Homo sapiens: one gene and its partners. The protein of the gene in region 1 interacts with the protein of each later gene in a biochemical or structural test. Each region holds a gene or a part of one and is shown in the gene's direction. Other genes may lie near its edges.

Region 1 (7,002 bases):
CGTTAGGACAGGTAAGGTAATGGGTCTCAAAGGGAGTGGCCGAAATGCAATGGAAAAAGAGAGATTGTAAAGCTAGAAGGCTTAGGAATTGCCTCTTGATTAGGTGTGGAAGGCAAGGGAAAATCAGCCCTCGAAGAAGACAGTGAGATTTTAATCTGGGTGGCTGGAGAGACAGTGATGCTGGGCACAGACACGGGGAAGTTGAGAGGAACACCATGTTTGAGAATGGTGACTCATATTTGAACAAGCCTGCAATGCCCAGCAGACCGCTGGAAAAGTGGGGCTGGAGACACATTCAACGGAGGAGCCAGATCAATCTTTACCCTTCTTCACCTGAGAGAGCCAGTAAGTCACGGCTGGAACGTGTGTGTCCAGCAGGAGAGGGTAGGGAGGGAAGCCAAGAGAGCTGGGAGCCCGAGTGAAGTTTTTGCCAAAGGCAGAAGAGGAAAGTCGGCGTAGCACAGTATACTTTCCCACCCATGCTCACCAAGCCCAGGGACAAGGCTCACCAAGATGAGTTTGGAAGAGAATGCTGGAGAGAAAGTGGTTAAGAAAACTGCCTTTACTGAACTTCTTGGGCTAACTTTGATTGTAAGTCTCTGAACAATCAAAGCCTGTGAGGAGACAGCTAACCTTCTTATTCTTCCTATGTCAATAGTGAACAATTGCAGATCCCCTTTCCTTTCCTTCTCCTTTCCCCTGTTCCTCTCTCCTCCCTCCCTGAATACTCTTGCTTTTTTCTGGGACTGGTCTAGAGCATGGGTGGCCATTGTTGACCTACAGGAGGCACCACTGTCACCAACAAAGGGTAACAGTCTTTCTTTTCAATATTTATTTATATCCAGTATTTATTTTCAATACTGACTATGGAGAGAGCTCTCCTGTGCTCAAACACTGCAATACTGGGGGTCTTTCAAAGCACAAAAACATATATTTGCATGATGGCATCATTAACATTTTTATGGCTTTCTATTTCTTTTTTGTACTGGTCTCAAGAGCCACTCATAAATCTCTCAGTAACTGCATAGTGTCCCAGGGCCAGAGACCGGCCACTCCTGGCATTGTGATTAGAGTCATTTAATATCCAAGGTGGTGACTAATGTCTGGCAACAAAGCCTCCATTGGGTGTCATGTGTCCTGGGACCCTGAGCGTGGGCACTCTAGGAGCACCTCAGTATTGCGTGTTAGTACTATGGCCGAGAGAATAGTTGAGAAAGTGGTCAAGAGGTGGATCCATGTGAACGCCACTGGGAAATGAGAGACCTCGTTCCCAATCACGGTCAGTGCAACTCGAAAGCCTAAAATCAGTTTAAAACAAAGGTATCTACCTTTATCTTATGTTCATATCCTAGGCTTTTAATAATACGTATTTTTCACATGTTTACAGAAAGCAGTCAACTGAGCTATTCATGGAAAGGTTTGTGGGTTTGGTTAACGAAGTGGAGGAGTATTACATTTCAGCTGGAAACACATCCCTAGAATGCCAAAACATTTATTCCAAAGTCTGGTTTCCTGGTGCAATCGGAGGCATGGCAATGCCTCTGTTCAGAGACTGGGGGCTAGGGCCAGTAAGGCATTTGATCCACATGTATCCCAGAAGGCTTTTATTGTTAAATTATATTCTTTCGGAAAAACCACCCATGTCCTATTTTGTAAACTTGATATCCATACACTTTTGACTGGCATTCTATTTTAGCCGTAAGACTATGATTCACAGCAAGCCTGTTTTTCCTCTTGCTTGGGGTGGCAGCAGAAAGCATAGGGTACTTTCCAGCCTCCAAGGGTAGGGGCAAAGGGGCTGGGGTTTCTCCTCCCCAGTACAGCTTTCTCTGGCTGTGCCACACTGCTCCCTGTGAGCAGACAGCAAGTCTCCCCTCACTCCCCACTGCCATTCATCCAGCGCTGTGCAGTAGCCCAGCTGCGTGTCTGCCGGGAGGGGCTGCCAAGTGCCCTGCCTACTGGCTGCTTCCCGAATCCCTGCCATTCCACGCACAAACACATCCACACACTCTCTCTGCCTAGTTCACACACTGAGCCACTCGCACATGCGAGCACATTCCTTCCTTCCTTCTCACTCTCTCGGCCCTTGACTTCTACAAGCCCATGGAACATTTCTGGAAAGACGTTCTTGATCCAGCAGGGTAGGCTTGTTTTGATTTCTCTCTCTGTAGCTTTAGCATTTTGAGAAAGCAACTTACCTTTCTGGCTAGTGTCTGTATCCTAGCAGGGAGATGAGGATTGCTGTTCTCCATGGGGGTATGTGTGTGTCTCCTTTTTCTTTCAGGACTTGTAGGATTCTTTGTGCCATTTGCATATAATTTGGCAGGTTCACATTTTTTAAGAGCCCTATGAAGTGCTTTTTGCATGTGTTTTAAAAAGGCATTTGAAAATTGAAAGTGTGATTTATGGAAATTAAATCATCTGTAAAAAATTGCTTTGGAAAGTAATGATTGCTGGCCATAAAGGGAAATATCTGCGATGCACCTAATGTGTTTTTAACCCTTTATTTGCTGACAATCTATAGTCATTAATGCTAAACTCGATTTTGGCTTCAGCTACATTTGCATATTGTCCAACAATGGTCTATTTTTGTAAGAATTAGATAAAATGTATACTTGATATAAAATAGTCAAAAATGTAACTCTTAGTAACAGTAAGCTTGGCATTTAGATAGACCATGAACACTTCGTCAGATACTCTGTTGGGTGTTTGGGATAGCAATTAAAACAAAGTATTGATAGTTGTATCAGAGTCTATTAGGCTGCAGCAAAGGAAGTTTATTCAAAAGTATAAACTATCCAAGATTATAGACGCATGATATACTTCACCTATTTTTTGTCTCCTTAATATGTATATATATATATATATATATATATATACACATATATGTGTGTGTGTATGTGCGTGTGCATGTTTAACTTTTAATTCAGTTAAAAACTTTTTTCTATTTGTTTTTCATCTGGATATTTGATTCTGCATATCCTAGCCCAAGTGAACCGAGAAGATCGAGTTGTAGGACTAAAGGATAGACATGCAGAAATGCATTTTAAAAATCTGTTAGCTGGACCAGACCGACAATGTAACATAATTGCCAAAGCTTTGGTTCGTGACCTGAGGTTATGTTTGGTATGAAAAGGTCACATTTTATATTCAGTTTTCTGAAGTTTTGGTTGCATAACCAACCTGTGGAAGGCATGAACACCCATGTGCGCCCTAACCAAAGGTTTTTCTGAATCATCCTTCACATGAGAATTCCTAATGGGACCAAGTACAGTACTGTGGTCCAACATAAACACACAAGTCAGGCTGAGAGAATCTCAGAAGGTTGTGGAAGGGTCTATCTACTTTGGGAGCATTTTGCAGAGGAAGAAACTGAGGTCCTGGCAGGTTGCATTCTCCTGATGGCAAAATGCAGCTCTTCCTATATGTATACCCTGAATCTCCGCCCCCTTCCCCTCAGATGCCCCCTGTCAGTTCCCCCAGCTGCTAAATATAGCTGTCTGTGGCTGGCTGCGTATGCAACCGCACACCCCATTCTATCTGCCCTATCTCGGTTACAGTGTAGTCCTCCCCAGGGTCATCCTATGTACACACTACGTATTTCTAGCCAACGAGGAGGGGGAATCAAACAGAAAGAGAGACAAACAGAGATATATCGGAGTCTGGCACGGGGCACATAAGGCAGCACATTAGAGAAAGCCGGCCCCTGGATCCGTCTTTCGCGTTTATTTTAAGCCCAGTCTTCCCTGGGCCACCTTTAGCAGATCCTCGTGCGCCCCCGCCCCCTGGCCGTGAAACTCAGCCTCTATCCAGCAGCGACGACAAGTAAAGTAAAGTTCAGGGAAGCTGCTCTTTGGGATCGCTCCAAATCGAGTTGTGCCTGGAGTGATGTTTAAGCCAATGTCAGGGCAAGGCAACAGTCCCTGGCCGTCCTCCAGCACCTTTGTAATGCATATGAGCTCGGGAGACCAGTACTTAAAGTTGGAGGCCCGGGAGCCCAGGAGCTGGCGGAGGGCGTTCGTCCTGGGACTGCACTTGCTCCCGTCGGGTCGCCCGGCTTCACCGGACCCGCAGGCTCCCGGGGCAGGGCCGGGGCCAGAGCTCGCGTGTCGGCGGGACATGCGCTGCGTCGCCTCTAACCTCGGGCTGTGCTCTTTTTCCAGGTGGCCCGCCGGTTTCTGAGCCTTCTGCCCTGCGGGGACACGGTCTGCACCCTGCCCGCGGCCACGGACCATGACCATGACCCTCCACACCAAAGCATCTGGGATGGCCCTACTGCATCAGATCCAAGGGAACGAGCTGGAGCCCCTGAACCGTCCGCAGCTCAAGATCCCCCTGGAGCGGCCCCTGGGCGAGGTGTACCTGGACAGCAGCAAGCCCGCCGTGTACAACTACCCCGAGGGCGCCGCCTACGAGTTCAACGCCGCGGCCGCCGCCAACGCGCAGGTCTACGGTCAGACCGGCCTCCCCTACGGCCCCGGGTCTGAGGCTGCGGCGTTCGGCTCCAACGGCCTGGGGGGTTTCCCCCCACTCAACAGCGTGTCTCCGAGCCCGCTGATGCTACTGCACCCGCCGCCGCAGCTGTCGCCTTTCCTGCAGCCCCACGGCCAGCAGGTGCCCTACTACCTGGAGAACGAGCCCAGCGGCTACACGGTGCGCGAGGCCGGCCCGCCGGCATTCTACAGGTACCCGCGCCCGCGCCGCCCGTCGGGGTGGCCGCCGCGCCCGGCAGGAGGGAGGGAGGGAGGGAGGGAGAAGGGAGAGCCTAGGGAGCTGCGGGAGCCGCGGGACGCGCGACCCGAGGGTGCGCGCAGGGAGCCCGGGGCGCGCGGCCCAGCCCGGGGGTTCTGCGTGCAGCCCGCGCTGCGTTCAGAGTCAAGTTCTCTCGCCGGGCAGCTGAAAAAAACGTACTCTCCACCCACTTACCGTCCGTGCGAGAGGCAGACCCGAAAGCCCGGGCTTCCTAACAAAACACACGTTGGAAAACCAGACAAAGCAGCAGTTATTTGTGGGGGAAAACACCTCCAGGCAAATAAACACGGGGCGCTTTGAGTCACTTGGGAAGGTCTCGCTCTTGGCATTTAAAGTTGGGGGTGTTTGGAGTTAGCAGAGCTCAGCAGAGTTTTATTTATCCTTTTAATGTTTTTGTTTAATGTGCTCCCCAAATTTCCTTTCATCTAGACTATTTGATTGGAAATATGTCAGCTATGATGATGACTTTCTGGGAAGCGATTCCTGTCACCCGCTTTCCCCTCCTCCCCACCCCACGTCCTGGGGCTTTAGAGAGCGATTGGGAGTTGAATGGGTCTGATTTCGGAGTTAGCTGGCTGAGTCCGCGCTGGAGCGGATTGCTGGCATGTGACTTCTGACAGCCGGAAATTTGTAGGTGTCCCGCGAGTTTAAAACAAGCCATATGGAAGCACAAGTGCTTAAAAATAATCTCCTGCCAGCCCAGTGACAAGCCTGTCCCACCCGGGGAGAATGCCCCGGAGTGGCGTGCGGGTCAGCCAGGGTCTGCGCCTCGCAGCCACTGTGGAAGGAGCGCGGCCGGTCCAGGACACAGGAGACCACTTTGTGACTTCAATGGCGAAGGTTGTGTGTCCTCATTTTAATTTTTTTCCCTACAAGAATTGTTCTTTCTCCCTCTCCTCTCCCTCCCATTTTCTCTTGCCCAGTTTCTCCTTTTGTTTTTTGTTTTTTGTTTTCCTGATGGGCCTGCAGAGGGATTAGGTGGGCGCTTCTGGTGAACACCTTCCTAGGTGGCCACAGGACAGGTGTACCCCGGACTGGGTTTGGAAGCTTCAGGGCGCCACATGGCTGGGTCCTGAATTAGGCATTTCCCAACTGTACACTGGTATCCGGACTGGTGTCCCTATATCTTTCTGCCTTGTAAGCCGTGGACCAGTTTTTGTTCAGTATTCTGTTTCCAGGGATATTTATAGCAGAAGGAAGGGGACTAAAGTGCAGTTTGGCCCCAGAGGATACTGAAGGGCAGATTCTGGGGGTATTCAGTGTGCATCTTCAGCCGCCTTGGAGAAATTTAGAGCATCCCACAGCCACGCAGATCCAAGCTGTCTTTACTCAAAAGACAAACAATGAACAAAACTTTTAAAGGTTGGCATATTTCAAATTAATTTTACTTGTTTTAATTTAGGGTTAAAACAGAGAAAAAGGATTTCTTCTGCCCACCTTTTTTTTTTTAAATGGAAGAACAAAGTACAGCGATTAAGTCTAATTCCACACAACATTTAAAACTGCTTGATGTGAAGGAAGGCACTGGTATGATGTGAATTCCATAACCTTATGATGGACTCCAGAAACCATTTTCTTCCCTATTTAATTTTCAGTTCTTTTATTGCAAATTAATGCTGCTGAATTTCAATGGGCACTAATGAGACTGCTCCTTGGTAGATTATTTACTGCCTTGCTAATAATTACAAAGTGAACCTGGTCAAATACAGAGGGGATCGCATCTTATTCAAAATTGTTCATCATCCCAGTGATAAGTGGTATCAGTGTAATATGCCCTATCTTACACTTTCTGCATTACATGATATTCAAACACTCTTAGAATAATAAAAAAAGAGACAAGGAACTTAAAAATTAAAAAAAAAACTTGCACAAATGGGACTCTGTGTGGAAATTCAGTTTTAGAATGATTTTTCCTGTGTTTTATTTCCCGGATTATCTTTCCTCTTTTGTTAGAATTCTGCCTGTTATTATCCAGCAAGGAAAAGAAGCATCTATGCAAGTTCTTCATATGGACAGATATTATTTAGTATTTTTCCCCTCTCAGTTTTTCTGCTTAAATGACTCTGGGTATAAAGGAAAGGATTGATTGGGCTCTTTTAGGAAACTTTAAGTTTCTTAAGTAGTTCTCAAAAGTTTTGGGGCTGAAAGCAGTGTTTTCAAACTGCTTGTCATGACCCAGAGGGTCATGAACTCAGTTTAGTGAGTCTAGAATATTTTTTAAAAGGACTAAAATGGAAAGGAATATAATAG
Region 2 (7,031 bases), on another chromosome or scaffold:
TCTGGCCCAATGTTCTGGAAGAAAGCATTAAGGAACTGGAACAGGAGGAAGAAGAGAGAAAACGAGAGGAAAACACCAGCAATGAAAGCACAGATGTAAGGGCATTGAGTTTCCTTTGAAACTTCTATCATGATTCTAATATTTAATCCAGAAGTGCACTTAAACTTTCAATTGGGTTTTAAAGCTTTCAGGTGTAAAAGAGCTCTTTAAGTTGGACAAGAAATATTGGCTTAGAGAGGTTATTAGGGTTCTGTTTCAGTGGTATTAAACTTTTAAAGCATCAGAGCCCCTTTTAAAATGGCATCTCAGACTTTGAGTAATGTGAAATGATAAAAGAAACTGAAGGAAATCCTGAAAAACTGATAGAAGATTACTTATCTGAAGGACTAGGTTATGAATATTATAGGCCTTGTGGGTCACATATCTCTGGCATATTTTCTGTCTTTTAAAAACACACTCTTTTTAAATGTAAAAAACCATTCTTAGCTATACAAAATAGGCCTGAGCCAGAATTTAAGTTACTAAGCCTGGCTTAGTAACCTCACCAGTTATTTCCCCATAGCATATCTCGAATTACCTCCATTGAATTTAACTTAACAAAAGGCACCCTTAAATAGTCTGTTAACAAACTCTTACAGCCTTGTCATTTAGTATTTGTAGGCTCATAACATTTTAGAATATGAGTGGAAGGAAATAAAACCAAGGTCTTCTGGCTCCCCACTTTGATACACTCTTCACTACCCCAAAGTGCCACCCCTTCCTTGTTCCCTAGCCCCAATCTGGGATACATTCAATCAATCTACAGGGTCTGCACATTCTGTGGCCTCTTCTAGGCAAAAAGCTAAAGGGCTGCCATTGCCTTAAAGATCACTGGGAGAAAATTAGGTCAAATAACAACTTTAAGGAGAAAGAATAAGTGAAGAGAACAGCTAGTAAAATAAGTTACAGGCATAAGATTATGATATCTAGTTTCAAAGAAGGGAGATATTCTGTGCTATTCCCAAATTACTTAACAAAAACCTTATTTTCTTGTCTCCTTTGTGCTACTCTGCAGGTGACCAAGGGAGACAGCAAAAATGCTAAAAAGAAGAATAATAAGAAAACCAGCAAAAATAAGAGCAGCCTGAGTAGGGGCAACAAGAAGAAACCCGGGATGCCCAATGTATCTAACGACCTCTCACAGAAACTATATGCCACCATGGAGAAGCATAAAGAGGTAAGATGCAGCCACCCAGAGTTGGGGAAAAACGGCAAGATTTCTGGCCAGGCATGGTGGCTCACACCTGTAATCCCAGCACTTTGGGAGGCCAAGGCGGGTGGATCACCTGAGGTCAGGAGTTCAAGACCAGCCTGACCAACACGGTGAAACCTTGCTCTACTAAAAATACAAAATTAGCTGGGCATGGTGGCACATGCCTGTAATCCCAGCTACTCAGGAGGCTGAGGCAGGAGAATTGCTTGAACCTGAGAAGCGGAGATTGCAGTGAGCCGAGGTCACTCCATTGCACTCCAGCCTGGGCAACAAGAGCGAAACTCCACCTCAGAAAAAGAAATAAGAAATGAATAAAAACACTGACTGTTCGCTGGGCGTGGTGGCTCATGCCTGTAATCCCAGCACTTTGGAGGTTGAGGCAGGCGGATCACTTGAGGTCAGGAGTTGGAGACCAGCCTGGCCAACATGGCGAACCGAAACCCCGTCTCTACTAAAAATACAAAAATTAGCCTGGCGTGGTGGCACACACCTGTAATCCTTGGGATGCTGGGGTGGGAGGATCACTTGAACCTGGGAGGCAGAGGTTGCAGTGCACTTACAGCCTGGGTGACAGAACGAGACTCTGTTTCAAAAAATAAAAAGATTTAACCTTTCTGAAAGTGAATTAGTAAATAGAATTGGAGAAAAGTTAAACTTCCACATATGGACTTACAACCCCCTTCTCAAAACTTTTTGAGTTATTTCATCATTTACATTGTTTAGTTGTTCTTGCAGTCATTTGGGAAAATAACTGGGTAAGGTTTTTTTTTTCTCTCTTTAATATCATATAATTGATAACGAAAGCCAGGAGAATTGAAGAGTAATTCCTCTCAGGGTTTGTCCAATGGTAGTAATCTCGATTGTTCAGTCAGACTCCTCATTTTACTATCTCGGTTCTCAGACATATAATCAAGTTCTTATAGGAAGTGGTAATTAAGTTGAGAGGGAAATGAAGGCTTGATTTCAGGTTGTAATTCCGTACCTAAAAATTGGTTAAACAGTCTCTTTGGGAGAGAAATAGTTAACAAAATCTTTTTTAGAGAGGAATTTGTTATAATGATGTTATCATGGTGAACACCTATATACATAGGTGTTCAAAGTATCTTTTCCCCCACTGCTCCCCCCATCACCACCCCTTTTTTGTTAGCCTAGAATAATGGGCTACGATGTAATAATGGTAATAACCATTATCTCAGCCATGCTAGTGAAATGGAAGGATTCCTGAGTTCTAATACGTTAGGTAATGATTATTAACAATTAATAGTTACTAGCTATTTCAAGCAGTAAGTAATGCCACAGAATCCTAGGCAGTTGGGAAAAGCCCTTAGAATATATTGTAATAGGTTTGACTTAAATTGTGGACACATTCCATGGCTGTTTAAATTTAGGTTGTAAATCCAAGTATTGGCCTGGTTGTAGGGTGACAGAAGCAGCGAACATTGCTGGCCAGAGACTGTGAGTGTGGCTGCCAGTGTGCACAGATGTTGAATAATCTGTTATCAGTACAGCAGTTTCTCACAAGTTCCTAATTTCTTAAGGGGATGTTTTACATTTTATTACTTTAATAGGTGTTTATAGTTATATACTAATTAATGTCAAATACATATGTAATACCAGCTTTTTATACCTTTTACACTAATGGTTATGAGAATTGATGGTTGTTACAAGTTTTTTCAAACTTCAATGAACAAGAATTTTATTGCTTTGTCAACAAAGACTAAGATTTTTTATCCATTCCATTCCCTTCCAAACCTGTAGGAAAAGTTACACAGGAAAGTTGCATAGGGGACCTTCATGAGTCCAGGCCAGTTGTTTTTCATACTGTCTCCATATTTGGATTTGTCTGGTTTGTTGTAATTAGATTGAGGTTAAACCATGGATTGCATCTTAAAGTAGACTGCCTTGAGGCAAAATGTCCACTGTGCATGGTGCTATACCTCACCCAGACCATTGTTACTCTGAAGGAGTTACTGAATGAAGGAGAAAAAAATCACAGGATGTGCATTTCAGTTCTATTTATAGTCAGTCTCAAGAGACCAAAGAGGTAAAGCAGGAAAAGGAACAGGAGGCGTATGGTGGTGAAACTAACTCAGCATTCGCCAGTCTCATTGGTGCTCAGCCTGCTGTACCTGCTCACACCTGTAATCCCAGCACTCTGGGAGGCTGAGGCAGGCAGATCACTTGAGCTTAGGAGTTTGAGACCAGCCTGGGCAACATGGCGAAGCCTCGTCTCTACAAAAAATGCAGAAATTAGCCAGGTGTGGTGGTGTGGGCCTGTGGTCTCAGCTATTCAGGAGGCCATGGTGGGATAATTGCTTGAGCCCAGGAGGCAGAGGTTGTAGTGAGCCAAGATCACGCCACTGCATTCCAGCCTGGATGACAGAGCGAGGCCCTGTCTCAAAAAAAAGAGACTGTCTGTTTTTCAGGTCTTCTTTGTGATCCGCCTCATTGCTGGCCCTGCTGCCAACTCCCTGCCTCCCATTGTTGATCCTGATCCTCTCATCCCCTGCGATCTGATGGATGGTCGGGATGCGTTTCTCACGCTGGCAAGGGACAAGCACCTGGAGTTCTCTTCACTCCGAAGAGCCCAGTGGTCCACCATGTGCATGCTGGTGGAGCTGCACACGCAGAGCCAGGACCGCTTTGTCTACACCTGCAATGAATGCAAGCACCATGTGGAGACACGCTGGCACTGTACTGTCTGTGAGGTAGGCACCGGGTTGTGGGAAGGAGGAGGTGAGCTCCGCAGGGTTGTTCTGAGGGGCCATGCAGCCACGTATTTTATAGAGGCCTGTGGGATGCTAGGGGCTTGGCCTCGTGTTTGAGGGGCAGAGCTGAAGAGGCTAGTTTTTGTTCTACGAAAGGGGCTTTTCTAGCCCAAACAATATCTAAAATACTTTTGAATGACTTAAATCTTGGAGAGTTTACGTGCACCTCCTGTTTTTTCCCTAGGATTATGACTTGTGTATCACCTGCTATAACACTAAAAACCATGACCACAAAATGGAGAAACTAGGCCTTGGCTTAGATGATGAGAGCAACAACCAGCAGGCTGCAGCCACCCAGAGCCCAGGCGATTCTCGCCGCCTGAGTATCCAGCGCTGCATCCAGTCTCTGGTCCATGCTTGCCAGTGTCGGAATGCCAATTGCTCACTGCCATCCTGCCAGAAGATGAAGCGGGTTGTGCAGCATACCAAGGGTTGCAAACGGAAAACCAATGGCGGGTGCCCCATCTGCAAGCAGCTCATTGCCCTCTGCTGCTACCATGCCAAGCACTGCCAGGAGAACAAATGCCCGGTGCCGTTCTGCCTAAACATCAAGCAGAAGCTCCGGCAGCAACAGCTGCAGCACCGACTACAGCAGGCCCAAATGCTTCGCAGGAGGATGGCCAGCATGCAGCGGACTGGTGTGGTTGGGCAGCAACAGGGCCTCCCTTCCCCCACTCCTGCCACTCCAACGACACCAACTGGCCAACAGCCAACCACCCCGCAGACGCCCCAGCCCACTTCTCAGCCTCAGCCTACCCCTCCCAATAGCATGCCACCCTACTTGCCCAGGACTCAAGCTGCTGGCCCTGTGTCCCAGGGTAAGGCAGCAGGCCAGGTGACCCCTCCAACCCCTCCTCAGACTGCTCAGCCACCCCTTCCAGGGCCCCCACCTGCAGCAGTGGAAATGGCAATGCAGATTCAGAGAGCAGCGGAGACGCAGCGCCAGATGGCCCACGTGCAAATTTTTCAAAGGCCAATCCAACACCAGATGCCCCCGATGACTCCCATGGCCCCCATGGGTATGAACCCACCTCCCATGACCAGAGGTCCCAGTGGGCATTTGGAGCCAGGGATGGGACCGACAGGGATGCAGCAACAGCCACCCTGGAGCCAAGGAGGATTGCCTCAGCCCCAGCAACTACAGTCTGGGATGCCAAGGCCAGCCATGATGTCAGTGGCCCAGCATGGTCAACCTTTGAACATGGCTCCACAACCAGGATTGGGCCAGGTAGGTATCAGCCCACTCAAACCAGGCACTGTGTCTCAACAAGCCTTACAAAACCTTTTGCGGACTCTCAGGTCTCCCAGCTCTCCCCTGCAGCAGCAACAGGTGCTTAGTATCCTTCACGCCAACCCCCAGCTGTTGGCTGCATTCATCAAGCAGCGGGCTGCCAAGTATGCCAACTCTAATCCACAACCCATCCCTGGGCAGCCTGGCATGCCCCAGGGGCAGCCAGGGCTACAGCCACCTACCATGCCAGGTCAGCAGGGGGTCCACTCCAATCCAGCCATGCAGAACATGAATCCAATGCAGGCGGGCGTTCAGAGGGCTGGCCTGCCCCAGCAGCAACCACAGCAGCAACTCCAGCCACCCATGGGAGGGATGAGCCCCCAGGCTCAGCAGATGAACATGAACCACAACACCATGCCTTCACAATTCCGAGACATCTTGAGACGACAGCAAATGATGCAACAGCAGCAGCAACAGGGAGCAGGGCCAGGAATAGGCCCTGGAATGGCCAACCATAACCAGTTCCAGCAACCCCAAGGAGTTGGCTACCCACCACAGCAGCAGCAGCGGATGCAGCATCACATGCAACAGATGCAACAAGGAAATATGGGACAGATAGGCCAGCTTCCCCAGGCCTTGGGAGCAGAGGCAGGTGCCAGTCTACAGGCCTATCAGCAGCGACTCCTTCAGCAACAGATGGGGTCCCCTGTTCAGCCCAACCCCATGAGCCCCCAGCAGCATATGCTCCCAAATCAGGCCCAGTCCCCACACCTACAAGGCCAGCAGATCCCTAATTCTCTCTCCAATCAAGTGCGCTCTCCCCAGCCTGTCCCTTCTCCACGGCCACAGTCCCAGCCCCCCCACTCCAGTCCTTCCCCAAGGATGCAGCCTCAGCCTTCTCCACACCACGTTTCCCCACAGACAAGTTCCCCACATCCTGGACTGGTAGCTGCCCAGGCCAACCCCATGGAACAAGGGCATTTTGCCAGCCCGGACCAGAATTCAATGCTTTCTCAGCTTGCTAGCAATCCAGGCATGGCAAACCTCCATGGTGCAAGCGCCACGGACCTGGGACTCAGCACCGATAACTCAGACTTGAATTCAAACCTCTCACAGAGTACACTAGACATACACTAGAGACACCTTGTAGTATTTTGGGAGCAAAAAAATTATTTTCTCTTAACAAGACTTTTTGTACTGAAAACAATTTTTTTGAATCTTTCGTAGCCTAAAAGACAATTTTCCTTGGAACACATAAGAACTGTGCAGTAGCCGTTTGTGGTTTAAAGCAAACATGCAAGATGAACCTGAGGGATGATAGAATACAAAGAATATATTTTTGTTATGGCTGGTTACCACCAGCCTTTCTTCCCCTTTGTGTGTGTGGTTCAAGTGTGCACTGGGAGGAGGCTGAGGCCTGTGAAGCCAAACAATATGCTCCTGCCTTGCACCTCCAATAGGTTTTATTATTTTTTTTAAATTAATGAACATATGTAATATTAATAGTTATTATTTACTGGTGCAGATGGTTGACATTTTTCCCTATTTTCCTCACTTTATGGAAGAGTTAAAACATTTCTAAACCAGAGGACAAAAGGGGTTAATGTTACTTTAAAATTACATTCTATATATATATAAATATATATAAATATATATTAAAATACCAGTTTTTTTTCTCTGGGTGCAAAGATGTTCATTCTTTTAAAAAATGTTTAAAAAAAAAAAAAAACTGCCTTTCTTCCCCTCAAGTCAACTTTTGTGCTCCAGAAAATTTTCTATT
Region 3 (5,802 bases), on another chromosome or scaffold:
CAACAGTGGCATCAACGTCATGCAGGTGGCAGATCTGCAGTCCATTAATATCAGTGGCAATGGCTTCTGAGATCAGGCACCCGGGGCCAGAGACATATGGGCCATACCCCTTAACCCCGGGATGCAAGGTAGCATGGGTCCAAGAGACATGGAAGAGAGAGCCATGAAGCATTAAAATGCATGGTGTTGAGAAGAATCAGGAGAGGGATACAAGAGAGGAGATGGGGTCCCGGCACCCATCTGTATCATCAGTGCCTCTTTGAAGGTGGGAAACATTAGTGAAAATTCTGTTGGTGCCACGCTTTGATGAGCATTTGTTTGACCCCAGTTTCTTCTTACACTTCTTACCCCAGCCTACCCTTCCTGCATTTCTCTTCTCAGCTCTTCCATGATGGATTCCCCCCCCTTTCCTAAAGCCATCATGCCTTGATAAATATATATGATCATTGAAATACTTTTTAACAAAAAACAGATTCTATATTATTATATATATATATATATATATAAAGATATATAGAGATGCATTCACAGGGGTTGGCTGGGAGGAGGAAGACCATTCTGTGACCAAAATACCTTGGTCATTTTTTTTATATTGCCTTATTTCCCTATGGCTGAGCCTTGTTGTGACACATCAAGCTTTTCTGTAGATGTTGTCTTGGCTTCCCACCAGCTTAAGCGTTCATATGCTCTGCTTTTAGTTCATATATACATACATAATGTTTTTCCTTTCTTAATTTTGTCTTTTTGTTTGGGATCAGCTTCTTGCACTCCTTCCCTAACTCAACTGTTGCCGTCTCATCTTCTCTCATCTGATCACTTCATGTTTTGTTTTTGTTACTGCCTGGATGAGGCACTTCTGTCAATTTTTTCAGGACCTTAGTTCCAGCAGCAGAATGGAAAAATCCTTGAAGCCCAGGCTGATGCTTGAAGTAACTGTGGAGGGAGTGTTCAAAATACTACTGACGCAGGCACCTTCTTGGCGCTGGAGAGTCAAAGGCATCTCCCTTCATTAGCTGCTCTGAGCATCAAGAATTAGAAGTCTTTCAGTGGAATTGTACAAGAGTCCCTTTGAAGATAATAATCTTGGCTCAGTTTGTATAAACTGTCAAATTTTCAAATAATAGGTAGGGGGCTTTCACTAGGAAAATCATGTGCTCAGAAGAGGAAATGACTCGTAGTCAGGTTCAGGAGTTAGTGGAGTATTTGGACTTTGGTACTGCTGTCTTCCAAGGTAGCTCTAAGTTTTGATGTGTGGGCTTCTGAGTTTATATTCTGAAAGGAAATACACTTCTTTTGAACATCCCCACTAGGTTCTTTTCCATTGTCAATAAGGAGCATCAGCCAGTGAATCTGTTTCAGGTTTCCATTCTGCAGAACTCCTCCAAAGCATGTGCTAGTGGCAAGACAGTGGTTCTTATGATGTTTTCCCTTAACTTTTCCTTGTATGTTCTTGGGTGGTTCCTAAGGGAAAGGGAAGCACATGATCATGGGAATGATAGCCCAGAACAAAAAGAAATCTTGTCTTACCACAGTGTTTTATAGGAGAGATTGGGAGAAATCATCCTGTTTTCTCTGTGACCTGATTTCAGAAGAGACTGATCCAAAAATTATAACGGCAGGGAACCTAGTGCATTTGGCACTGAGATTTAAATGCAACCAGAATTGTCCTCAAGGCCCAGCCATAAAAGCATTGTCTCTCTCGACCTTCTGGTATCTTGTTAGAGAGCTTTTCACTGTGAGGAAGTGTGGAAAAATAGCTCTGTGTGTGTGTGTGTGTGTGTGTGTGTGTGTGTGTGTAATCTGTTAGGTTGGGGATAGGTTTTCTGCTAGCCAATATTAAAAGAGACCTGCAATAAAAAAATTACCCTGATCTGATAGAAAGCAAGTGTTTTTGTATGTGTGGGTGAATGTGTGTTCATGCCCGTATATGTCTACACACAGATGACAAATTATATTTGAAATCGTTGGAAAATAAATTCAGATCAAAATGCCTTTCAGGCCCATTACCTAGAAATCTATCTTAAAACCTGGGTATGTTCCTAAGGTCATTTCTTTGCTTATGCTAAATTAATTACAATTATGAATGGAGGATATTCTACTGTACTTTTTTAAAAAGAAACTATTTTTGTGTTTGAAAGTGAAACCAACATCCAGATCTATAGCAGAGTCCTTATTCTTCTCATAAATCTTTTTACTTTGGCTACAAATAGATGATGGTATGATTCTATTATATATTTTATATAAAATCCATCCAAATTAAGTTTTGGGTAAGTGTGTTGTTTAATCTGAACTATAGTAACTTAATACTCTAAACAATAGTTCACTCCATTTGGTCCTTTCTCCACAGATGTAATTATGTTTTCAACTCAGGAACTATGGCAAGGAACTTTCCCCAGATCAAATTCTATTAACGCTGAGATACAAGTCATCCATGCACAGCCACTATCATACCCTTTATTCTCACTGAAAGGCAGAACTCAGAACCTGTTATTTTATGTCTGTAATCATGTACTTTGGCATCTTTTGGAGGAAAGGGGCAGGATAACTCACTGGAATGTACAGTATTTTGCTAGTGCATTTCAAGGAATGGAATCTTCTCCAGTATGAAATTACCAGATATAAAATAATGTAATGATGCTGAGGATATAAGCTTTTAGAAGGTAATTTGATGGTATTTCTTTCTCGAATGAAAAGCTGCTGGTTTACCCTCAACCCTATTCATTAGCATTACCATGAGTGAATTTATATCTAATTATTTCCACTTGCCCTGTTCTCTTCACACCAAGGAAGCTCCAGATCCAGTATCTTGTTTGGCCTCAAAACAGAAGCAGCTTCTTTTGTCTCCCAGCAGTAGTGAGCCACTCAGTCTCTTCCACAGGAAGTTTGGAGCCTACATTCCTTGAGTCAGGAGCTTATTACAGAAAAACCCCGTTTCCCTGAACTTTTGGCTAACAGAAATTAATTTAACTGACATGCATATTGATTCTGAAATTTTTTTCCTAAGTTTTTTTCATTTTTTTGAATGAGTTTTTTAAATTTTTTAGATGACCAAAACTTGCAGGGCAGGGGATGCCCAGAAGAGTGGTGAGATAGTAAAACACTTATTCCCTCATCCTTTCAGGTTTTCAGGTTGCCCATTTATATTCATTTACATGTCATTTGACTGTCTCACTTTTTACCCAGAACAGTAACAACCCACACCGTCTTCCTTCAGGGATTTCCAACTGGCACTCTGTGGGTGCTACACAGAATGCAATTTAATGGATATTTCTCAGCCTGGTTCAGAATAAATTGATCCTTTGATCCCAGAAAGTATATACTGAAGTGTGGGATAAAGATTATGATTAGGGGAGGGTTGGAGACAAAAGCTGTAAATTACTATGGCTGATTTATTTCTACTATATACATATATATTTTTTGCTTTTGTATATCCTATATAGGAAACTAAGCATTGTATTTTTTTTAACAAATCTAAAAAAGCACTATGAACTACAGGTGTTTGACTTTCAAAATATATTTTGTATTGTTAATATCTTCACATTGTGTGAATACTGGAAGCTGCAGATCTTTGCTAGGACGCAATAAATTTATATACTTTTTGAGGGGTTCTTCTGGGGTGCTAATCAGGCCCCTGTTATGCTTAGGGGGAGCCCTGGTGCTACTTGCTTGAAGTTTTCAGTGTAAGTACCCTGATGCCTTTTGGACCTTGGGATCAGATCAAGAGTTTTGGAGATCAGGTACCAAGGAAATAAGGACAGTCTAGCTGCCTCAAGTGAGGGGCCCTTTGCATAGCTCTCCTTCCCCCTCACTGAAGCTGGGTAGCCTATTGGGGTTGAGAGGGAAAATGTGAAATCTCAGAATTTATCTCCCTTAGAAGAGAGCCAGTAACTTATGTACAAGGATGAAAGAAAGGTCGCAGCAGTAGCTTTGGGGAAAGGGAGGAAGATATGGCACTTCTCCAACCCCGGAAAACATTGCTTTTGAAAACTGCTGATAAAATATGAGCCGGTTATTACTTCTGTTTGGGAGACTGTGCTCTCTGTGGTGCCTCTCTTGGCTCTACTCCACAGATACCAGACCTCTTCTAAGAGGATGAGCAGACCAGCTTTGAGGTTGACCTGTTTCTCTTTGTCTGCCTTCCCAAAACACCAGCCCCCAGGAAGACATTAAGCAGCCTTAAGCTTAAATTCCTACTCCCTCTTCCAAATTTGGCTCACTTGCCTTAGATCCAAGGCAGGGAAAGGAAAAGAAGGGGGGTCTCTGGCTTTATTACTCCCCTAAGTCTTTACTCTGACTTCCCCAAACCCAGAAAGATTTTCTCCACAGTGTTCATTTGAAAGAGGAGTATTTTGTCCCATTTTCCCCTTCCTCATTATCAAACAGCCCCAGTCTTCCTTGTCTCTGCTAAGAAAGTAGAGGCATGATGATCTGCCTCTCAACTGCCCTAAGTCCTAGCTAAGTATCAGGGGAAAAAAAAAAAAAAAAAGCCTAACAAATGGGATTAGACTAGGGCTGCAAGTAGTGAGGATTTTGTTGATACCTCTGCTGGGATGTGTGCTTTCCCATATCTTGCCTTCAGGAATTACACTGTGCCTTTTCCCCAGGGATATGGGCTCTGTCTACCCAGTGCTCCAGTTTCCCGGTAACTGCTCTTGAACATTGTGGACAAGGGCAGGTCTTCATATTTTTGATCATCCCTTTCTCCCAGTGAAATCCCATAGCCCTTACCTAGAGTCTAGGGCACAAAGACTTCGGGGAAGATACACTGAGATTGACCTGAGGAGACATCTACACACACCAGTGGCAGCTGCCCCAGGGCCTGCTTCCCCTTCCTAAGTCTGTCATCCTCTGGAAGGGATGGGTGGTGCTCCAATCTCTGGTGCCTAAAAACCCAAGTTTATTTCTCTCTTAACACTGGCAATAACCAGTCCACACCACTGTTGCCTTTTAAAACCTCTTAATAATCTCATGCTGTGTTTGTTTTGATTCCAATCCAATTATCACCAGGGCTGTGTGGGTAAATGCTTTTAAATGCTCTCTCATCTTGTTCTTCCCCCTCACCCCCCACTCTTAGGTATGTATGATGCTAATCTTGTCCCTAAGTAAGTTTCTTCCTGCTCCTTTTGTATCTTCCTTTCTTGTCTTTCCTCCTACCTTTTGTCTCTTGGTGTTTTGGGACTTTTTTTTTTTTTTTTTTGGCCTTTTGTACAAAGATTAGTTTCAATGTAGTCTGTAGCCTCCTTTGTAAACCAATTAAAAAGTTTTTTAATAAAAAACCATGTCTCTGGTGTATTGAAGAGGGTTGGGAATGGTGAGAGTGTACGTTTGTAACTTCATACTCTGAACCTAACAAAGGTTTCCAGCTACACTGTGTTGTGCTCCATACATGTTAATTAGTGCAATTGCCCTATATTTAACTCCCGGGTAAATGGTTTCATGACCAGATCAATGTGCCACAACTACACGGAAATGTGGAGGACCAAGACAAACAGGCAACACTAACTTTATTTTTTTTCTCATATGCTTTTTTATTTTGGAATAATTTTAGATTTACAGAAAAGTTGTAAAGCTAGAACAGAGTTTCCATATAATCCTTACCCGTTTCCCTCATTGTTAACATATTACCATGGTACATTGTCAAAATTAAGAAACTGACATCGTGGCCAGGTGTGGTGGCTCACGCTTGTAATCCCAGCACTTTGGGAGGCTGAGGTGGGTGGATCACGAGGTCAGGAGATCGAGACCATCCTGGCTAACACGGTGAAACTGTCTACTAAAAATACAAAAAATTAGATGGGCGTG
Region 4 (6,872 bases), on another chromosome or scaffold:
AATATCTAATTAATAATTCTGTATGTTGTATAGACATGAAATGGTAATTTTTGATGTATTGGGTTAAAGTGCATTATTATAATTAATTTTACCTGTTCCTCTGTACTTTTGAATATAACTACCAGAAAATTTAACATTCCTTATGTGGCTCACATTTGTGGTTCACTTTATGTTTTTATTGGTCAGTGCTGCTCCAGAGGCTAAGGGACTGTGGCTAATAAGGTAACTGCAGTGGGGTTCCATTTGTCTGTGATCTATTATATTACACATATTTCTCCCTACTCAGGTGTCATAGTTCACTCCATAGTGTAAATATGGGCTCAATACTTCTCAGTGCATATTTTTGTCTTCTCATACCTCTCTACTGTTGAACAGTCTATGTCCTCTCCTGAGAACCTCTTTTCCCACTTTGCCTACATGGCTAATTCTTTTAACCTTTTAATGGCCAGCGGAAGCATTATTTTCTCTGCAAAATGTTCTCTGAACTCCCTTACATCACAGCCAGGACCCCAAGAGAAAGATACATTCTGTCCTCTGGGGTATGACAGTATGTTGGCCAATATCTACTGAATGTCTATTGTCTGCTGGGCACAGGGATGGGTAGCTGGAAGTCCCCAAATGTGAATGAGAGGGATATGGACCCTGTGCCTGTACTGCTTGCATTCTACAGTGGGATACGGACAAGCAAATACCCACTAACAAAACGGTTTTTGAAAATGCTATAGAGGAGAGATTTAGAGAACACACCAAAGGCTACAGAACCAAAGGCTAGAGAACACACCCAGACTACATCTTTGTGGCGGAGAGGTATACTGAGACTGAACTAAAGGCATGTGATCCCACAGGAACCCTGGACGTAAAACAATAATTAGGTGTTTAAGTATATAAACCCAACAGCATTGTTTTCACATCACAAATGATTCAAATGAGACTTGACTTCAAAGTACAAATTACCAAATAGGCATTCTTATATTACATATAATGCCCTAGTATCCTTGCAATGACTCTGTTAGCCAGGAAATTTAGGTATTGATTTACTTAAAAAAACAAAGAACAACAACAAACAAGTCTCCACATAATTAGCATGATTAAGTGAAAATGAATTCCACAAGAGGTGTGCAATTTACTTAACACTCATGCCACTATCAAAAGAGTTCAGGATTTCAGTGATTGGATTTTTGTGGGGTTGAGAAAACAGAATAAGAAGAAGTAGTGAGCAGCTTTGGGAAGTCACCTAACATACAGCAGTGGACTTTTTAACAACAATGTTGGAGGGCTGGAATATTCTCGGCTTGCTGGGCAATCTCCATGGTCCAAAACCTGGTTAAGAAGTAAGAGGAATGTATTTAAAAGATAGACTTGAGTAGTCCAAATATCTTTCCCAAAGTCTATGCACTAAGGTGTGTGTGCGCCCTACTCCTTGGTGAGCCCATTAGTCCCTTACCCAGAACCTATTAAGTTTACTTTAGACAGAATTGTGACAAGTGAGGCTATCTGGATTCCCAGTCCGCACTAGACTGGAAGTTACCCATCAGAAGATGAGGAGAATGTTAGTGGCAGCTATGCTAGTAACAGTAAGGACAATAGATTGTCAGTTAGTGAAGGGGGAGAGAGAGAAATTACAAAAGGCAGAGATAATCACTAAGTCATAGCATCCTAGAGTCCTTCGGTGCAGCGACTGATAGCTTTTGTACCTCCTGGGAGCATTCCTAACACCTAGAAAGAATATAGAATAGGAACTGGATATATTTACTGAATCCGCTACAACCTACTACAATAATTACTTTTAATAAAATTAACATTGAATTATCAAGAAAATGCTAAATGACGTTCAACAAACTGCTTAAGAGAAACATTTGCAATACATTGTAGAAAAATCTGTATAATGGTTAAAAATAATTTTCATAAAAAAAGTTTGACCCCCCACTAAGGGCCAAGCTCCAATTATGCTGGTCATCATTGAATTGAAACGGTTTGCTTTGTATCAATTCTGAATAAATGATGCACTAAAAAACAGCAGACTTTATTTTGCCTAGAGCAGATTTTGAATTGTGGTATATGCAAATAATATGGTATTATATTATATGAGGTTTAACTATATAAAATGGCAACAGATTGCATAGTTCAATCACTAGGGTGATGAAAAATAATTGTTTTAAAATGTGCCATTGCCACTAAGGAAAACATTGGCACTATGTGCCCGGCACTGTGCTGGGTGCTGAATTTATTAAGCATTAATTTGAAAAATTGCTTTCACTTTCAAGACTGTGACAGTATTCTAAAACTCTCATTCATATTGTTTAAAGGTTAAGTGAAATTTGCAATACACAATACAGCCATTACATAACAGGCACAGAATACAGTTTCATGACTTGGATAGTTTTTGTTTTTTAAGCGCATTAGCAACTTCATTTCCAAATGCTATCAAATTCTTCAGGATATGAAAACCTACATATAAGAATGGAGTGCCTCATCGGCTCATTTGTCTTATGTAATAAGTGTTTTAACACGGGCATGCCGTTTCAGAATTTCGGGTGAGACTAAGCTGTACTTTAGCTTTTTTGTGTCAAGCAAAAACAATTTCAGCAACAACACTCGCTTCCCCTGGTAATTTTTTTCATGGCGAATTACTAAATGCTAGATGCTCAAGTCAAAAAGAAACCTGACATCTGGGGAGGTGTTGAGGGGGTGTTAATAGTTCTAGTGAGATGTCTGGGGAGCGTTGAGGATACGATTTTTCAAACAGCAAATACAAGGATAAGGGGAAATTATGGTTTCGTATGACTCTCTCCTCCTTCCACTTTCTCGTTTCACCAATCTGTGGCCCCCCCAATTTAGAGGCGGGTTCAGTGAGATTAGGCTGCAGGAAACCGAGAGGCTCCACCGCGCTGCCGCCCCGGCCTCGTGATGTAATTGTTATTTCTTATTCGGAGACCGAACCGAGGAGAGCTGCTGAAGAAGTAGCAGCCCTGCTCCTTTTCCCTTGTCTTGTTGGGTCAGATCCTTCCCGGGGATGATGCAGATTGGCTGACAGACTCCGCTGGAGACTTCGCAGTGACAAAGCAGCCGAGGATTAACCCTGCTCCTGGGTCCTACGTCTGTCCAGGGAGCTGAGCGGGGCGCTCCTCAGGTCTCCTTCCTAGTTTTCCTCCCAGAGTCGCTCCACACGAGTGCTGGGCGCCTACTACGTGCTGGGCGTGGGGTCAAAGTGACCCAGAGTTCGCGCCCGTGCCCCCCAACATTAAAGCAGGACACACAGATTACAAGGAGATAGAAATTGGGGGTGGGTGGGTGAAAGGGGGCCCAGAGAGCGCGTGTTGTGGGGTGAAGGGGAGGAGGTAGACGCTTAAGGCAGGCGGGGACCCTGGAGCGTCTGGGGCGCCCCGGCCCCCAGGCTGTGCCCAAACGGGAGCATTCGGCCTGGGTCCCAAGAGCGCTTTCCCCGGTCCCCAGGAGGAGCTGTCCAGGCGCCTGCAGCGGTCGCGGGCGGCTGGACAGAGCTGGGAGCCCGGGGGACGGCCCGGGCGCGCCGTGCAGCCCCTCTCTCGGGGACGCGGTCCTCTCGCTGCCTCCGGGTCTTGCAGCCCCGTCTGGGACACCCGGAGAGCAGGCGAGAAGGAAATCCACGAAACAGAGGGGGTTCCGCAGCTCCTGTGAGCCGCCCGGATCCGCGCGGCTTCCTCCTGACCGGGTGACAATGGGAGGGAGGGGGAGAAAAGGGTTAAGAAACTTGGCTGAAGAGCTGAATGGCGTGGGGCGGCGAGGGGAGGGACTGGGCCGCGGCGGACTCGGCGGCGGAGGGAGGAGCGCGGCTGCGGGCGGGCGGTGAGCGAGGCGCTCAAAGTCAGCCTCGCAGACATTGCAGCAGAGCCCCGAACTCGGGAGGCGGCGGCGGAGGAGGCGGCGGCGAGGCGCAGGGACGACCCGGCCCCACGCCCGCCCGCCACCCGCGCGCGCCCGTCCGCCCGTGGCCTCGCGTCCGCCGCTGCGCCGTGAGCGCCGCTGGTCGGAGGGAAGAGCTCGCCGGGGCGCCGGGCCAGGACGGGGCGGCAGGCGCCTTCGCGGACCGAGCCTGACGGAGCCGGAGGCTGGGAGCCGCGGCGGCCTGGGGTGAGTGACGGCCGCGGCCAGGGCGCCAGGAGTAGCGGCCGCCGGCGCCGCCGGAAACGGCCCGGGAGCGCGGCCCGCGTCGGCTCTCGCTTGGCTGGCAGGGCCGCGGGGGCGTCGGGGCGGCGGGGAGGGCGCGTTTCCGGGGAAATCCTGCCTCTGCTGCCTGGTTCGAGTCTCCGGGTTCTCGCGGGGGGCCGGGGCGGCGGGCCGGCAAGTTGTGGAGTGGCCCCGGGTCGGCCCGCCCGTCCGTGCCAGTTCTGGGCAAGGGGGCGGCCGTCGCGTGGCCCCTGAGCGGGGCCGGACTCGGGGGGCCGGGTCGGGGTTGCCCCCGCTCGCTTGCCCTCTCGGTCCCGAACCCCGGGCACCGCTCGCCTCGCCGCTCTCCGTCCTGCTGTCCAGCCGGATCCTGGGCGGCGCCTTTCGCCTGGGTGCCTCCCTGCTCCTTGCTCGCTGGATACCCGGCTGGGAAAGTGAATAGGAAAAGGGACAGCTCGCCCGGCCCCCACCCGACCCCGGGCCGCTCTGCCCGCACTCGCGGTCCCCTCCCGATGGCGAGGCTCACGGACCCGAGGCCTCAGCCATCATTTTACCAGGAGCCAGGGGCCGGCCCCCATTTAGGGTGAGCCCGGTGGAAGTCCGGGAGGCTGCCTTTTCTCCCTTCTTCTGTGTCCACCTTATTACGATTGAATATTGTTTTATGAAGGTTTCCGTGGATGTATTCTGCAGACCCTCCCATCCCTTCCAAAGTAGTTTCCCAATTTTGATCAGGAGTTGGTGTTCAGTCAGAAGGAACAAAGGAACCAACTGTGTCTTAGAGGCGGACAGGCTGGGAGTCTGTGACACATGTTGATCTCTGAAGCATTCCAGGAGTTTCTACCTTTTATCACGTCAATAATTGGCTGCTGAAGGTAGTAAAAGAAGTACGGAATGATAAGCACTTTTGCGTTTTAAAAATATTTTTTAATGGCACATTTTACTTTGGGGAAAAAAGACGTTCTTAGGCACAAGGATTTTTAAAAACCCAGTTGGTGGAACTGAGTTGGAGTTTGTTTCTGGTATTGTAAATGATTACATGTGGGATTGTGAAGGAAATTGTGTCCTTAGAGGAAGAGAAGCCATCTGTAGGTGTCCATAGTAAAAATGGTTGTCGGGTTATATGTGATGAATGCTCTTTCTGTTTCTTGGGGGAATTTGTGAAGCAAGGGGCTTCGGTAATTCATTCTTTAAAGTTATGAATTGCATTGAACCTGCTTATTAGTGAATCATAGGTTTAGTAAGTGGGTGGCATTATTCAGTGTTTAATCATCAGTTTTCCACCTTTGTTGAAGAGACAGTGAAATAATAGACTTTTTAAACAAATGGTGTTTCATCTGCCTGGCCCCTAAGTGTCGGTTGCCGCCTGGAGTATGTTGAAGTGTTTTTCACCTTCCAAGTAAGTGAGTTGCTCTGGTTTTGCCCGGCAGTTCGGTAACGTCGATAGGGTTTATTTGGTTCAGGGAGCACTGGCTTCATCACCTACAGTAACTTTTTTTCTGCCTGGGCATAGTTCCTAGAGACAAAGAAGGAGAATCAATTAGTGGAGCGGCTACTGCCCTGCAGGTTGTAGGATTGGTTGTTCTAGTCTGTTTCATACTCTGGTGGAGAAAGACCTCTTTCCAAACTTACCTTTAAAAGTGCCCTAGGAGTGTGAGTAAAATATACATCAGAACATAACAGAAAAAAAAAAGGACTGTTCGTTGTTGATTTTATTCAAATGAGTTAGTTGAAAAACCAGGTTTAATGCCTGTGGGAAGTTAGTTGAAAACCAGGTTTAATGCCTCTTTTACATGCATTTCTAAACTCTGCAGAACTTGGATTTTGCTAATTTTAACACCCTAAAATATTGTTAACTTTGCACTAAAGAAGTGTGTGAAGAGACTAAAGGCTTTTCTGACTCTTGCAGTTATAAGTGCAAAACATCATGATAAAAAATAACCTATACCACCACCTAGAGTCTGTTTGTTAGTTTATTGCTCATGAAGTTTGCTTAAATTGACATGTCTGTTACAGTTCTGATATAGTCGAAAATGATTAAGAAGTACTAGCTTTCAAAAGCCCGTCCAAGAGAACAATTATTTAAGTAATAAATAGCAAGTGCCACTTTAAATTATCCGTGCCACCTTTAGAATTGAAAATTATGACATATCAAGTTGAGTGGGCTATTCTCCAAAAGATGTTAATTCAGAAGATTTTAAAACGGAGTTTTCAGTTTGTGCGCCAAGGCAGTTCTGATTGCTTAAAGACTTCTGCGTTGTTATCAGAGATTCAAGAAATCTTCCCAATCAGATGCCATTAGAACTTTTTGAAGTCCAGATGAAACAAAAGCAAAAATACAGGAGAGCATTACAACTACAGAAATTCTGGAAATTCAGAAGTTAAGAGAGAACGCAGCCCATGACAGAGTTGTGATTCAGAGATATGAAGAGTAAAATCAATGTGAATTAAAGTGATAATCTGTTTTGCTGGTAGTTTATATGTGGTAAAGCAGTCTATTAAATGAGAGACCTTAGGGAGGCAGCTTTGTTGCCATGTGGCTTATCACATTGTCCATGGAGGAAGTAATGTTCCTCCTTTAAGTGGTGTAGCCTGAGAGAAAGATGGCCTCCAAGATCTTTAATTAAATACCAGTTGAACAGAAAGAACTAGAGCACTGTATTAATTCTGTCAAACATCACTATTTTAGAACATTGAGGACAACTAAAAATGAATTAACGCATATCTGA

The links.
Region 2: the proteins of ESR1 (region 1) and EP300 form a complex in vitro, tested with the Homo sapiens proteins (10 studies listed by BioGRID, with this or other methods).
Region 3: the proteins of ESR1 (region 1) and SP1 form a complex in vitro, tested with the Homo sapiens proteins (6 studies listed by BioGRID and IntAct).
Region 4: the proteins of ESR1 (region 1) and NRIP1 form a complex in vitro, tested with the Homo sapiens proteins (4 studies listed by BioGRID, with this or other methods).

What each region holds. Positions count from the first base shown.
Region 1 is NC_000006.12:151,803,680-151,810,681, forward strand, and holds the start of ESR1 (estrogen receptor), read left to right. Parts: upstream 1-4,002; 5' UTR 4,003-4,233; coding exon 4,234-4,685; intron 4,686-5,427; exon of another isoform or gene 5,428-5,592; intron 5,593-7,002.
Region 2 is NC_000022.11:41,172,569-41,179,599, forward strand, and holds part of EP300 (histone acetyltransferase p300), read left to right. Parts: coding exon 1-95; intron 96-1,054; coding exon 1,055-1,216; intron 1,217-3,678; coding exon 3,679-3,960; intron 3,961-4,204; coding exon 4,205-6,388; 3' UTR 6,389-7,031. UniProt on the Homo sapiens protein: Functions as a histone acetyltransferase and regulates transcription via chromatin remodeling. Acetylates all four core histones in nucleosomes. Histone acetylation gives an epigenetic tag for transcriptional activation.
Region 3 is NC_000012.12:53,411,171-53,416,972, forward strand, and holds the end of SP1 (transcription factor Sp1), read left to right. Parts: coding exon 1-70; 3' UTR 71-5,276; downstream 5,277-5,802. UniProt on the Homo sapiens protein: Transcription factor that can activate or repress transcription in response to physiological and pathological stimuli.
Region 4 is NC_000021.9:15,061,983-15,068,854, reverse strand, and holds the start of NRIP1 (nuclear receptor-interacting protein 1), read left to right. Parts: upstream 1-3,854; 5' UTR 3,855-4,110; intron 4,111-4,264; exon of another isoform or gene 4,265-5,018; intron 5,019-6,872. UniProt on the Homo sapiens protein: Modulates transcriptional activation by steroid receptors such as NR3C1, NR3C2 and ESR1. Also modulates transcriptional repression by nuclear hormone receptors.